Linked DNA regions of Homo sapiens: region 2 is linked to region 1. Evidence: fine-mapped expression QTL. Tissue or cell type: spleen. Region 1 holds a variant in brackets; the other region holds the start of a gene. All regions are shown on one strand. Distances are from middle to middle.

Region 1 (8,111 bases):
TTTAGTTCTTATTCAAAAATGTTTTGGCTATTCTAGATCCATTGTTTTCCATATAAATTTTAGATCAGCTTGTGAATTTCTATGCAAAAAAAAAAGACAATTTGGTGGGATTTTGATTGGCATTGTCTTGAATCTATAGATAAATTAGGAGTGTATTTACATCTTAATGACACTGAGTCCTCTAATTCACGAACACTATATATCTATTTATTTAGTTCCCTTTTGATTTCTTTCATCAGTGTTTTGTAGTTTTTAGCACACAAACCCACCACCTATTTTGTTAGATTTATACCTATGTATTTCATGTTATTGATGGTACTATAAATTACACTCTTTTTGTGAAGTTCAATTTTTAACTGTTCATTGAAGGTATGCATAAATAGAACAGATTTTTGTGTATTGATCCATACCTTGCCACCTTGCTAAACTGACATATTAGTTCTAGTAGTGAATGTGTAGATTTTCCATATTGTCTGATAATAGAGACAGTTTTCGTTTTTCATTTTTAATCTGTGTGGTTTTTGCTTCTTTTTTTTATCATCTTGTACTGGATAGAATCTTCAGTACAATGATTAATAGTGACAGTGAATATCCTTATTTATTCTCCCACTAGCAGATGTAAAGCATTGATTCTTTCACTTTATTAAGTATGATGTTAGCTGTAGAGTTTTGTAATAGATGATTTTAATCAGTTTAAGAAAGTTTCTTTTAATTTTTAATTTGTTGGAAGTTTCTATTATTGATAGATAATGCATTTTGTTAAATGTTTTTGTAGCTATGAAGATAACCAAGTTTTGTTTCTTGTTTAATCAGTTGATAAGTTTAATTACATTAATTGATTTTTGTTTTAAAAATTGAAGATTTTTTCCAATTGGAAACAAAATGAAATTTTTTAAGTTGAAAATTTGAACCAGCATTCCTGATATAGACCCTAATTCATTATAATATATTGGCCTTTTTATATATTGATAGATTCAGTTAGGTAATATTTTAGGACAAGAATTTATATCTATATTCATGAGGGATATTGTTTTATAGTTTTTTTAAGTTTTTCAAACGTATTTTTTTAATCAGTGTAATGCTCAACTAATAAAATGAGTTTGTTAAGTGTCTCTTTTTTTGTTTTTCTGAGTTTCTGTAGAACTGGTTTTATTTGTTCCTTAAATGTGTAGTAGAATTTGCAATTAAAGTCATCGCTGTGTGAAGTTTACTTTGTTCAAAGATTTTTAAAAAGAAATTTAATTACTTTAATCGGTATAGGACAATTTGGATTACATTTTCTGCTGGCATTACTGATGTGAGTCACCATGTCCAACCCTGTCTTTGTATTTAAATTGGGAAACTTTTAGAGAACGTATGATTGGGTCTTATTTGTTTGTTTGTTTTGTCCACTCCAACAATTTTTGACTTTTAATTGGTTTATTTAAACCACATTTAAAGTGATGAGCTATATAGTTGTATTAATATCCACTGTGTTTGTAACTACTGTCTGTTCATTACATTTGTTCTTTGTTTCTTTTTTATTTTCCTCTTTTTCTGTTCCCATTCATCCCTTAAAAAATTGCTGTCATTCATTTCATGTATCCATATACTATAGTCACACAGTAATTGTTACTATTTTCAGTTTAAACAGTTATTTATTTGATTAATTTATTTACAATAGCTATTTATTTGATCAATTCATTTATTTCTTCTTCAATGCTCTTTCTTTCTTCATGTAGATTAAAGTTTTTTTCCTATATCATTTTCCTTCTCTCTGAACTACTTTTTAAAAACATTTCTTGCAGGGAAAGTCTGCTGTTGATTAATTTCCCCAGTTTTTATTTGTATGAGAATGTTTTTATTTCTCTTTCACTTTTGAAAGATAATTTTGCCAGATATAATGGTATATTAGTGAAGATTTTTCTTTCAACACTTTAAATATTTCACTCCACTTTCTTCTTGCTTGCATAGTTTCTGATGGGAAGTCTGATGTAATTTTCATCATTGTTTCTTTTTAGGTAAGTTGTATTTTCCTTCTCTGGCTTTCTTCAAGATCTTCTCCTTGTCTTTGGTTTCCTGTAGTTTTAACATGATATTCCTAGGTAAAGATTTTTGGTATTTATACTGTTTTGTGTTCTTTGAACTTCCTGAATCTGTGATTTGATGCCTGACACTAATTTTGGAAAATTCTCAGTCATTATTACTTCAAATATTTATTCTGCTTGGTTCTTATTTTCTTTTCCTTCTGGTATTCCAGTTATGCATGTATCATGCCTTTTGAAGTTGTCTCACATTTCTTGGATGAGTTGTTCTGGTTTTTTTTTAATTATTGTTATTTTTTCTCTTTGCCTTTCTGCTTGGGAAGTTGTATTGGCATATCTTCAAGTTCACTGATTCTTTTCTTGGCCATATCCAGTCTACTGGTGAGCTCATAACAGGCATTCTGTATTTCTGTTGCAGTGTTTTTTAAATTTATTTATTGCATTTCCATTTGATTCTTTTTTAGATTACCTGTCTCTGCTTATATTATCTATTTACTCTTAAATTTTGTCTTTCTTCCATTAGATTCATTCATATATTAATCATAGTGATATTAAATTCTCTGATAATTCTAAATTCTGTGACATATCTGAGTCCGGTCTTATGCTTACTTTGTTTCTTCAGATTATGTTTGTTTCTGGCCATTAAGCATTACTTGCAAGTTAAAAAAAAATCCAGACAAGATGTATCAATTAATAGGAACTAAGGTAAAAAGGCCTTTGTTATGAGAGTTTATGCTAATCTGGCTAGGTGTTGGCTATGTTTAATGTTTCCTGTACATGGTTTCAATTTCCTTTAGAGTCCTTTTTGTGTTGTTGTTCTTTTTCCATTGTTGTCTTTGGGTTTCCATTTAAAGCTTCTTCAGCTGTGATCCACTGTTATAGTGGAATCCCATTGATGTGGTAGTGAAGTGTGGAAGGAAGAAACACATTCTATAATCCTATGATTAAATTTCAGTCTTTAATGAACCTGTGTCTCTGGGCTATAACCCATTTTCCTCCCTCACATGAGACAAGAGGGCTAGAGAGGACTGGAGTTGGGTAATTTCCTCCAAGCTGAATAGGCTCTAATAAAGTCTTTTCCCCTGGTGAATAAGACTTTGTTATGGAGAATGCTCTGGGCATATCTCAAAATGGTTACATTTTCCCTCCCACTTCTAGAAATGTGAGAGCTCTTTCTTGGCTTATCACTGTGAGAAACTGATGGGATTCCTGGAAACAAAACCTATGAAAATGTGGAGGATCCCCAATACTCTGT[C/T]ACCCCCCAAAATCCATCACTCTCATGCTAATCTACATTCTGCCTTCAGCAATTCATCAAAGTTACCATATAAGTGTTCTTATCAGTTTGCAGCTCAAGTAGTTCCTGTTCTAGGTAAATTCATCTCATCTGTGATTCTCTGCATTCACCTGTCTCTCCAGATGTTGGTGTGGCAGTATGCCCTACAAAGAGGTTCTCTGATGGATTCAATAAAAATCAGTGGTTTTCAATTTATTCACTTATTTTGTTCTTGTAAGGGGAGTAGTGGTAACTTCTAAGTTCTCTACATATTGGAGTTGAAACCAGAAATTTTTATTTTATTTTATATATCCTATAAACTCGCATTGCTACTATATTTGTTTATAGATGAATAACAATCTTTTAGAGCAATTAAAATAAAATTAAAGATATCTTTTATATTTATCCTTATTTTATACATTAATGGAGTTGTTCACTTCTTTGTGTAAACCCAGTTTTCTGCTAGCTAACATATTCCTTCTGCCTGAAGATTTTCTTCATCATTTTTTTTTAGATGGATTCTTACTCTGTCATCAGGCTGCAGTGCAGGGGCACAATCTCAGCTCACTGCAACCTCTGCCTCCCGGGTTCAAGCAATTCTCCTGCCTCAGCCTCCCGAGTAGCTGGGACTACAGGCACCCACCACCACACCTGGCTAATTTTTGTATTTTTAGTAGAGACGGGATTTCACCATGTTGGCCAGGATGGTCTCAATCTCTTGACCTTGTGATCCACCCGCCTCGGCCTCCCAAAGTGCAGGTGTGAGCCACGTGCCCGGCGATTTTCTTCATCATTTCTCATCATGCTGTGCCGCTGTTAATAAATTCCCTCAATTTTTGTTTTGCTGAAATAAAAGGTCATCATTTCTCATTCATTTTTGAGATTTTTGCTGGGCTTAGGATTTTTAAATTGACAGGTATGTTTCTTTCTCAACATTTTAATGATGTCACTCCATTGTTTTCTGGCTTGCATATTTCTGATAATTCATCTGGTGTAATTTCTATATTTTTTATCGTTGTATGTAATGTGTCTTTAAAAAATCTGTATTCTGTTAAGATTTGCTTTTATCTTGGTTCAGCCGTTCAATCACGATGAAGTAGACACATTTCACTGTATTTCTTCCACTATCTGAATGTTAAAATCCTGGACAAAATGCATAAAACACTGGAAGACTCTTACATGAGAGAAAAGAAGGTGTACTGCCTAGGAATTTTGGAACTTGAAAAATGACAGTGGTCTGTTCCCTTTTTCTGGTTTTTGTTTTGTTTTGTTTTTTGTCTCTCATATACCCCATCTTGATCACTAGAGAAGAACACAACTTGGAAATGCCAATAGGCACAGGCCAAGAAGCTCCAGAAAAATCCTACTTTCTCTAGCCAAAGGACGTGAAAAGGAGTGGGCCAATAGGAGAGTACTCTTTGAGCAGTACCCATCCTATTCCAGCCAAACACAGTACAAAAAGAAAAATGCCCCTTCTCACATACCAGGCACTGCAGGAAACATGGACACTGTGAGCAGAGCTCTGACTTCGTCCTCATCTGGTAGTAATAAGTGGTTGGGTACTCCTTATAGTCTCAGCCAGTTAAGTGTATGTAGAGACAGTGGGGTGTGATGGGTCTAGGCTTCCATTCATGATTTGTAGTAACTAGTCAGCACTTCTCTCTTTGCAACTTGAGGTTAGGGAAAGAATTACAGAAAGGAAGTAGTTGAAGAAAGAGATACTTTATTTATTCATTTAACTTTTATTTTAGGTTCAGGGGTACATGTGCAGATTTCTTATTACAGACAAATTTGTATTATGTGGGTTTGGTGCACAGACCATATTGTCACCCGGGTACTGAGCAGAGAGCCTGAATGTTTGTTTGTTTGTTTGTTTCTGAACCTCTCCCTCCTCCCTCAAGTAGGTCTTAGTGTCTGTTTTTCCCCTCGCTGTGGCCATTAGTTCTCATTAGTTAGCTCCCACTTATAAGTGAGAACATATGGTATTTGGTTTTCTGTTCCTGGGTTGGTTAGGTAAGGATAATGGCCTCCAGCTCCATCTATGTTCCTGCAAAGGACATGATTTCATTATTTTATATGGCTTCACAGTATTTCAAGGTGTATATTTACCACATTTTCTTTATCCAGTCTATCATTGGTGGGCATTTAGTTTGATTTCATGTCTTTGCTATTGTGAATAGTGCTGCAATGAACATATGTGTGCATGTGTCCTTATGGTAGAGCAATTTATATTCATTTGGGTATATACCCAGTAATAGGATTGCTGGGTTTAATGCTAGTTCTCTTTTTATTTTTTTGAGGGATGACCACACTGCTTCCAACAATGGTTGGACTAATTTACATAGCAGTATGGCAATAATTTACATTGCCATATGGCAATGAGAAGAATGCATAATCCATTGTTTTTGGATGGAGAGTTCTGTCAATGTCTATTAGGTTCATTTGATCAAGACTTGAGTTCAGGTTCTGAATATATTTGTTAATTTTCTCCCTGTCTAATACTGCCAGTGGGATTTTGAAGACTCCCACTATTATTGTGTGGGAGTCTAAGTGTCTTTGAAGATCTCTAAGAACTTGCTTTATGAATCTGGGTGCTCCTGTGTTGGGTACATATATTTAGGATAGTTAGATCTTGTTGAATTGAACCCTTTACCATTATATAATGACCTTCTTTGTCTCTTTTTATCTTTGTTGGTTAAATCAAAGTCTGTTTTGTCTGGAATTAGGGTTGCAACCCCTGCTTTTTTCTGTTCTCTATTTGCTTGGTAGATTTTTCTTCAACCCTTTATTTTGAATCTATGAGTGTCATTGCATGTGAGATGGGTCTTGATAACAGCATACCATTGGGTCTTGCTTCTTTATCCATCTTGTCACTCTGTGCCTTTTAATTGGGAAATTTCGTCTATTTACATTCAAGTTACTGTTGATGTGTGTGGATTTGAAACTGTCATTGTATTGTTAGGTTGTTGTTACACAGACTTATTTGTGTGGTTGCTTTATAGTGTCACTGGTCTGTGTATGTACTTCAGTGTGTTCTTGTTGTGGCTGGAAATGTTCTTTCCTTTCTATATTTAGTGCTTCTTTCAGGAGCTCTTGTAAGGCAGGTCTGGTCGTCATGAATCTCTCAGCATTTGCTTCTCTGAGAAGGATCCTTTTTCTCCTCCACTTTTGAAGCATGGATATGAAATTCTTGGTTGGAAATTTTTTTGTTGTTGTTGAATGTGGGCCCCTCATCCCCTCTGGCTAGTAGGGTTTCTGCTGAAACATCTGCTATAGACTTTTAGACTTCTATGGACTTTTTAGCCTGATGGAATTCCCTTAGGAATTCCCTTAGGAGAACTGCCCTGTCTCTCTAGCAGCCTTTAATATTTTTTCTTTCATTGCAATCTTGGAAAACCTGACGATTAAATAATTATACGTCTTGGGTATGAAATTTTTGTGTAGTATCTTGCAAGGGTTCTCTTTATTTCCTGAATTTGGATGTTGGATTCTCTAGTGAGGCTGGGGAAGTTTTCATGGATAACATCCTGAAATGTGTTTTCCAAATTGCTTGCTTTCTCCCCCTCTCTTTTAGGAGCACTAATGGTCTATAGATTTAGCCTCTACATAATCCCATACTTCATGGAGGTTTTGTTCATTCATTTTCCTTCTTTTTTTTTTTTTAATTATCTGATTGTCTTATTTTAGAGAGCCAGTCTTCAAGTTCTGAGATTCTTTCCTCAGCTTGGTCTATTCTACTGTTAATACTTGTGATAATATTGTGTCTGGAGTTGGTTCCTTCTGGTGGGTTTGTGGTCTTGCTGACTTCAAAAATGAAGCCGCGGACCTTCGCGGTGAGTGTTACAGCCCTTCAAGATGGCACGGACCCAAAGAATGGGCAGTAGCAAGGTTTATTGTGAAGAGCAAAAGAACAAAGCTTCCACAGTGTGGAAGGGGACCTGAATGGGTTGCTACTTCTGGCTGGGGTGGCCAGCTTTTATTCCCTTATTTGTCTGCTCCCATGTTCTGTTTCTGCCCTATTAGAATGCCCTTTTTTCAATCCTCCCTGCGATTGGCTACTTTTGGGATCCTGCTGATTGGTGCATTTTACAGAGTGCTGATTGGTGCATTTTACAGAGCGCTGATTGGTGCATTTTACAATCCTCTTGCTAACTACAGAGCGCTGATTGGTGTGTTTTTACAGAGCACTGATTGGTGCATTTTACAATCCCCTTGCTAGCTACAGAGCACTGATTGGTGCATTTTACAATCCTAGCTACTGAGTGCTGATTGGTGTGTTTTACAATCCTCTTGCTAGACAGAAAAGTTCTCCAAGTCCCCACTCTACCAAGGAAGTCCAGCTGGCTTCACTTCTCAATATTATGAAATTCTTATGGTGTATTTTTTAGCTCTATCAGGTCATATAGGTTCTTTTTTATACTGGCTGTTTAATCTGTTAGCTCCCATATTATTTTATTTTCATTCTTAGCTTTCTTGAATTTGGTTTCAAAGTTCTACTGAATCTCAATGATCTTCACTCCTATCTATATTTGGGATTCTATTTCTGTCATTTCAACCATCCCAGCCTGGTTAAGAACCCTTGTTGGAGAACTAGTGTGCTTGTTTGGAGAACAGAAGACACTCTGGGCATTTGACTTGCCAGAGTTCTTGTGCTGGTTCTTTCTCATGTCTGTGTGTGCATGCTCCTTTAACTGTGGTATAAATTGAGTACAGTCAGTAGACTTTCTTTTTGCATGTTTCCAGAGGGCTGAGGCTTTGTGCAGAGTCTTTATTTGTAGCTGACTTCTTGCCTCTGGTTTTACAAGGGGACAGAT
Region 2 (8,111 bases), 280 kb after region 1:
GGGTAGAAGATTCCTCACACAGATTATTGGGGGAACTCACTGGTCATGTTAATAAAGTTAAAATAAGGTTTCCATTTCTCTTGATTCTCTGAGGGTGAGCTTAGGTAGGTTTTGGTGGACTTGAAAGTCCTGGCTCATTATCACAAATGCTTCCATGCTAAATCCCAAGGTGTTGTTCCTCCTGACCACCCAGCACCAAGATGGCAAACAGGTTTCATCCTGAACTGAAATCTGTTCCCTAGCTCAGGGATTCTTATTTCCCTTTCGTTGTTGTTTTAAAAAATTGTGAGGACAAGTCTGGGTGTGATGAGACACTTTGCCAAAATCAATTAGTGACGCCTACCATGGGCCAGGGAAGAAAGGAAAGTCAGCACAAAAGCTGGTTTTGGTTGTTGTTGTTGTTTTTGCTATCCTGAGACTAGCCTAAAAGATGTAGACCTCCAACCCTTTAATGTCACCTGGAACCAGGTTGAAGAACATGACTATTAAGAACATGACTTTTTTCTTTTTAAAAAATTGGGAATAGCAAAAGGGAAATAGACAGAGAATAGCATATACTTGGATATTCTTATTTGCCATCTATGTGGTTTCCTCATTTTGCGGAACTTGTGGAAAGACACGGTAGCCTGGCTCCTGACCCAGAATCCATGAGGCATAGTTGTATGTACTTCCCTTGGGGCCTAAGAGATTAAGAGAGAAGCCCAGACAATAGTCCAAGGCCCTCTGCTTTAGGTCTTTCTTCTAAATTCTGATTCTTTAATTTTTTTTTTTTGTTAATTTTAATTTTTTTTTTGTAGAGATGGGTTCTCCCTATGTTGCCCACAATGGTCTTGAACTCCCCGCTTCAAGTGATCCTCCCACCTGGGCCTTTCAAAGTGCTGAGATTATAGGCAAGAGCTACCTTGCCAGGCCTAAATTCTGATTTTGTATCTGAGGCTCTTCTCTTCCTCAATAATTGACACCAAAAATAGTCCTAGAAAGGAGATTCCACCCTTCTCTAAACAGTCATAGCCTTAGCCTATGTCAGAGTTCTTAACCCAGTGGTCCATTGATAGTTCAGAGGAATTAATGACCTTGGATAAGAAAAAAAAAATCTTGATTTCAAATGGAATTTAGCATTTTCTTCAATTACAAAACTAGCAGACAAACCTCAGAAGCATTTGCAGTACTTGTGACTGTTACTAATGGAAATAACAGTTATTTTCATTATTTCATTATAGTTGTTTTCAGTATCATGAAAGAACATTTGCACTCCTCTTTATTTAAAAGAATGTTGCTAGATCTTGTTATTTAATATGTTAAATAATGTTGCACACATTACATTACCACATTACTATAGCAAAAAATTATGTTTTAGATATTTTAACAATTACATTTCAATTGTTGACCTTTAATTTTAAAGCTAAGGCAAAATTAATGTAAGTAGAGAGTTTATTTGGGCCAAGTTTGAGTACTGCAACCCAGGAGTATAGATTCAAGTTTCCCTAAATATACACTCTGATTAGCAGCAGTTACACATAGATTTTTAAGGGGAAGGAAGAGGCAGTTCCTAAATTCCTTGCGTTAAAATAACATAAGCTGTGGATTGGTTATACTTTGTTCTTTGTATCATAAATTCCAGGAATATGAAGATAATGGGTGGGACAGCTACTCGGGAACAAAATGTCTTTAAACAACTGTCCCCAGGCATGGGTATTGGGGCGTGACTGAAGTCCCATACTCATGTCGCTCTGGGCCTGATAAATTTTGCATACCTCACAAAGCTCAGACTGCTCTCAGCTATTTTTTTTCCTTACAATGTAATTGATTTTCTTTGCAATCTATACATTTTATTCATTTATTTAAAATTTTTTTTTCTTCTTTCTTTTTTTCATGAACCGCACAGAGAAAATTTATGCATTTTATTGTAAGCATTTATAAACATTATTCTAAGAAGTTATCCACAGGCTCACCACTGCCAGAAGGGTCCACGACACAAAAAAGGTAATGCCTCATGGGCTTTCAAAGGACAACTTTTTACTTCTCTTTCTACCATCCAGTATAATCCAATATCCTTAGGACTGAAGCAGAGATACACACACACACAGGGAGAGAGGTGTTTGTGCTTTTTTTTTTTTTTTTTTTTTTTGGTGAGAGGCAGGTGGGAAATTGGCATCCACTTTTATTTACTGGTTCTTTATAAAACTGATATTTGTTGAAAATTGTCAAGTGTGACCATTTCTGCCTACATATTGTAGGGTGGCAATTAAATACCGAAAACCATTAGAAGCTTATTTCAGATGTACTCATTTATTGTAATGGTATCAATCTTGATGGGTAAATTTCATTTTACTTTTAAAATTGTATTTTAAATTATTCCTTCATGTTACGGTTGTTAGAGTAAAAACGGAAAAGAAAAAAACTACACTTCTTCCCTTTGAGTTTGGATGAAAAAGACGTGTCTAAGTCCTTAAGTCTGTAGTCTGGAAGTATTAATAGAGGCTGGGCATGGTGGCTCATTCCTGTAATTCTAGCACTTTGGGAGGCTGAGGCAGGAGGATGGCTTGAGTCCAGGAGTTTGAGACCAACCTGGGCAACACAGCAAGACTCGGTCTCCACACACACACACACAGACACACACACAACTTACACACACTTAGCTAGGTGTAACGGTACGTGCCTGCGGTCCCAGCTACTCAGGAGGCTGAGGCTGGAGGGTCCCTTGAGTCCGGGAGGTCCAGACTGCAGTGAGCTATGATTGTGCCAATGTACTCCAGCCTAGGCAACACAGCGAGACCCTGTTAAAAAAAAAAAAAAAAAGTATTACGAGGCACAGGATGTTTATTTATTCGCAACTACGTCCTGTTATAAAAAGTAGTGATTCCAACGTGAAATATTTACACGACGCATCCCGTTACTTTCCCTCCCTTGGCCACCGACCCCCATCCCCAAAAGCTGCTTTCTATGTAAGTTTCTCACTGGAATAGCGAGTGAGAAATGTGTTTGAAGACTAGGGAAACGAGAAAGGTATGCGGGCTGCTAGAGGGTTTCGGGTGGGTTGTTTGAAAAAGGAAGTGAAGGAATTCAAAGTTTCACATCATGAGCCTAATGTAAGGCGTGTCCGGGCCGTCCCGAAGGTATCTGGGGAAATAGGTTTGTGAGGACAAAGACCAGGGCCAGGCCCAGGGCGGAGCCTCCGCGGCCCCGACGCAGGGACTCGGCCTAGGCGGAGGACGGGGCGGAGCGCGGCCGGCACCATCGAGCCGGGAAGATGGCACCGCCCACGGAGCTGCTGGCCAGGCCGGAGCGAGGCAGCGCGCCCGGCTCCCGCGCCATGGGGCGGCTGGTGGCTGTGGGCTTGCTGGGGATCGCGCTGGCGCTCCTGGGCGAGAGGCTTCTGGCACTCAGGTAGGTGGGACTCCCGCGCGCCCCTCCTCGGCGGTCCCCAGGCTCGGGGTGGCCGCGTGGTGCGGGGAGGGCGCAGGCTGGGGGAGGGATTCCTGCGGGACCTGGCCCTGCGGCCGGGGGTGGAGAATTTTTGAATGCTGTCCCTCCCCCAGCTAGTTGAACCCCCATCACCCCGACTCTCCGCTTCTAGTGAAAAAACTAGCAAAGTTTGGAGTGAATCGCGACACTTTCTTGAAAGTTTATAAGCCCTTGCTGCTAACAAAGTTCTCTTCTGCTTAGGCTGACAAGAGAATGCTTTGCAATTACCCAAGGGCCAAACTAGTGGTTTAAATTGAAAACAAAATGACTACTCATGCATTGAAACCTTAACTATGAAGATTTATTTCAGGTCATTGGTGCTGTTTCTCCTTGTTGCCCAAACCAGACCCGTCTTTAATAAAGTTGTTCTCCACCCATTTCTGCATAGTTTGAGAAACTCTTCAGCTGTAGATCAAAGACACTTGAAATATTCAGCTACTGTTCTTACTTCCTATTTATTCACCAGGGAAGCCTGAAGCCAGAATGCCAGACAGCGCAGACACTATTCCATCTCGCATTTTAGTTTTAATGAAAATCTCTGGTAGGTAGACATCATCGTTTATAAATTACCAACTCAACGTTTGTTTTTTGTTTATTTTATTTTTTGTAGAGATGGGGTCTTGCTGTATTGCCCAGGCTGTTCCCTAACTCTTGCACTCAAGCAATCCTCCAGCCTAGGCCTCCCCACAGTGCTGGGATTACAGGTGTGAGCTGTTCTGCCCTGCCTCAACCAAAATTTTATAGGCCTCATGCAAAAGAGTTCCAGAAAGACTGAGCACCTGCTATGTGTAATGTTCTCTCTTAGGCTTCTATAGTAGAGTACGACCCTTATGGAGTTTGATACAGGGGAAGAGAGAATTAAAATACAGTAAATGTATAAATTAGGATGTTCTAAGGACAGACACAAATGAACCGCATAGGCTTAAAGAGGAAAGATTCCATCCCCTGAGGGTGGAGTTCTAGAGGGAGGAAGAGACATTCGACCTGACCTTGAAGGGTGGGTGCAACACATATGAGCATGAAGGGGCCCATGCCAAATGTATAGTGCAGCAGGAGCAAAGGGGCTAAGGTGGGAAGTTGGAAGACTAGCAAATGGGCCAATTTGAAGGGAGCATAAAGTCAGGAGATGAGAATAGTAGGGTGGTGGGAAGGATAGGTTTTGAGGCCATTAAATATAAGTTGAAAAATGGGGCCCCACTTTCATAGGCCCAATAGTGCTTCAAAAGGGAAATATTGGTGGGTTTTGCTTTTCAACAAGAACTTAATATAACTAGTTGTGTTTTATAGAGATAAGCCTGGAAGGGGGGATTGGAGGAGAGCAATGGTTCTCTGTACATTAGAATCTCCTGGAGGGCTGGTGTCTGAGTGGCACCACCAAAGATTCTGATTCAGCTGTTCTGGATCAGAATCTACAGCTCACACCTGTAATCCCAGCACTGTTGGAGGCCTAAGCCAGAAGATTGCTTGAGCCCAGGAGTTAGTGACAGGCCTGGGCAACATAGCAAGATCCCACCTCTACAAAATGAATAAATAAATAAATAAATAAATAAAAAACAAAATTTGAGTTGGTAATTTATAAACTATGGTGTCTACCTACCAGAGATTTTTCGTTATAATTAAAATGTGATATGGAATAATGTATTGTTTGGCAAGCTGGCTTCAGGGTTCCCAGGTAAATAGATAAATAAGGAAGTGCATAATGTAAGAACAGTGGCTGACAGTAGCAGTGGCATTTTTTATTTTTAAAAACATTCCTGATAATTCTAATGAGCAGTCAAGGTCGAGAACTACTAGAATAGAGAGCAGACATGGGGTAACTGGTTAAGGTATTGCAGTAGGTCAGAGAGGATAACAGGGACCCAAACTCTGGAACCCCAGGGATGAGGGAGAAGTCAAAGGTGCTACCAGAGTTTGTGCCACAGCTCCACTGTCCCATGGTTGTAGTTTCATCTACTGATAAAGCAGTGCAAAGAGGAAGCGTGTGGTGGCTGAGATGGGAGTGAGATTTGAGGAAAGAACGCTTATGGGTAGGAAATGGACATGTTGACCTTAATTTTCATGTTAGGTAATGCCCATTGTGCTCTACAGAACATTCATGAGTTGGATGACTTTGTATATGATCTGTCCTGCTCTCCATTTCAAAGGCAAGACCACCAAAATTCACAAGCTTATTATGTTGTCACTAATGTGTAAGCCACCAGTTTTTCTGCAAGTTGGAAGTTTTCTCAACAGTCAAATATTCCCCCTTCTCACTAATCTTAAGGTTTTAAAGTTATAGCTGCAAATCTAAAAAAAAAAGAAAAAGTAAATAAAACTTATTGACAGAATGCCTGATAGTTTATTTACAGGTTTTTGTTTGTTTGTTTTTTGTTTTTCTTTGTTTTTTATTTTGACACAAGGTCTTGCTCTGCCGCCCAAGCCAGAGTACAGTGGTACATCAAAGCTCACTGCAATCTCAAACACCTAGGCACAAGCAGTCCTCCCTCCTCAGCCTCCTGAGTAGCTGGGACTACAGATGCATGCTACCATGCCCAGCTAGTATTTTTATTTCTTGCAGAGACAGGGTCTCACTTTGTTGCCCAGGCTAATCTCAAACTCCCAGCCTCAAGTGATGCTCCTGCCTCAGCCTCCCAAAGTGGTAGGATTATACACATGAGCCACCACCCTCGGCCTACTTTACAATTTGATGCACCTTTTCTTTACGTGACTGTGATGCACTTTAATGGGCAGTGACTTTATAAAATGGTAACTTTATTGGATATGTGGAGCCCCAAATGGGCTGACGTGAGAATGTTGGGGTAGGTGGTGGGTGGCTGGATTTAGCAAAGAAAAATGTAGGCTACCCAGTTAACTTTGAATTTCACATGGATTTTTTTTTTTTTTTTTAGTATAAGCATGAAATACTTATACCATACTTTTAGCATTAAGCGTGGAATTTGGGACATAATTATACTAAAATATCATTCATTGTTTATCTCAAATTAAAATATCACTGGGTACCCTGTATTTTATCATATGTTCGAGTGCCTTCTGTCAGAATTTGGTGACCCTTTGAGTCTGTTTTAAAAAGGAGCATGTTTGGCCGGACACAGTGGCTCACGTCTGTAATCCCAGCACTTTGGGAGGCTGAGGCGGGCAGATCACTAGAGGTCAGGGGTTCAAGACCAGCCTGGCCAACATGGTGAAACCCCGTCTCTAATAAAAATACAAAAATTAGCCAGGTGTGGTGGTGCATCCCTGTAATCCCAGCTACTTGGGAGGCTGAGTCAGGAGAATTGCTTGAACCCCAGAGGTAGAGGTTGCAGTGAGCCAAGATTGAGCCACTGGACTCCAGCCTGGACAACAGAGAAAGACTCCCTCAAAAAAAAAAGAAAAAAAGCATGTTCCCACCTCCCCATAAGGAAAGGCTCTTCAGAGGAAGTTGAAGGAACAGAGGCTTTATGTTTGATTTTTGCTTTAATCTGATGCCTACTGTTTGATTATTCAATATTTAGAGATGGTACTTTGGCAATCAAGTTATTTCTCTCCCCAGGTTGCCCACTTCAATTTTTAGTATAAGGATGTCCCAGAGGGATAAATGCCATCAAAGTTGTCTTTCTTCTTCTGAACTGTAACTGGGATTCCACACCCTCCTTTTCCACCCCTCCCTAGTTGAGCAATAAAGGGGAAAATAACAGTATACAAATATTCCCAGGCCAGTTCCTGGTGTCAAGGTACACAGCCATGGATGAATCATGAGGCTTGAGTGCATCAGAGACCTAAGCGTGGGCAGGAACCCCCAGAGTACCCATGTGAATGTTCTGCTTGCTGCCTCGCACCTTTTATGACAATTCCCACAAGAAGCTATGTGGTCTGTTTCTACTTCTGAAAGAGCAGCCTTTTTCCCTTTTTTTTTTTTTTAAACCACCATCCTTTAAATCATTTATTATGTAACTCTTGTGTGCTGGTCAGTCAGTGTGTCAAAAGTGTAAAAACTTCTTTATTTATTTTTTTAATCTATCTTTTAAAAAATATTTTCTTTCTTTTTTTCTTTTTTCTTCAAGGCAGGTTCTTGCTCTGTCACCCAGGCTGGAGTGCAGCAGCACAATCATAGCTCATTGTAACCCAGAACACCTGGGCTCAAGCAATCCTCCCACCTCAGCCTCCTAAGCAGTGAGGACTATAGGCATGCACCACTACACCTGGCTAATTAAAAAAACATGGCCGGGCACGGTGGCTCATTACTATAATCCCAGCACTTTGGGAGGCTGAGGCGGGTGGATACCTGAGGTCGGGAGTTCAAGACCAGCCTGACCAACATGGTGAAACCCCATCTCTACTAAAAATACAAAATTAGCCAGGCACGGTGGCACATGCCTGTAATCCCAGCTACTCAGGAGGCTGAGGCAGGAGAATCACTTGAACCCGGGAGGCGGAGGTTGCAGTGAGCCATTGCACTCCAGCCTGGCAACAGAGCGAGACTCTGTCTCAAAAAAAAAAAAACAAAAAAATTTTTTTGTAGAGATGGGGGTCTTGCTGTGTTGCCCAGGCTGATCTCAAACTTCTAGCCATAAGTGATCCTACCGCATCAACTTCCCAAAGCACTGGGATTATGGGTATGAGCTACTGAGCCCTGCCAAATTTCTTTATATTAAACCAAAACGTAC

Evidence for each region. PIP is the estimated chance that this variant, and not a neighbour inherited with it, causes the effect.
Region 2: it holds the start of PON2, and the variant in region 1 is fine-mapped to the expression of PON2 in spleen (GTEx, PIP 0.97).

What each region holds. Positions count from the first base shown.
Region 1 is chr7:95,705,874-95,713,984 of GRCh38, reverse strand. All of the region lies in intron 2 of LOC105375409 (a long non-coding RNA gene), which reads right to left. Among named protein-coding and RNA genes, the nearest start is that of DYNC1I1, 63 kb to the left of the region's middle. The variant C/T (reference allele first, on the strand shown) is at 3,280.
Region 2 is chr7:95,430,154-95,438,264 of GRCh38, reverse strand. PON2 (paraoxonase 2) reads left to right here and starts at 3,237. Exons shown (of 9, transcript NM_000305.3): 1 at 3,237-3,387. The coding sequence starts at 3,314. RefSeq lists an enhancer at 2,880-3,450 and a silencer at 3,125-3,554.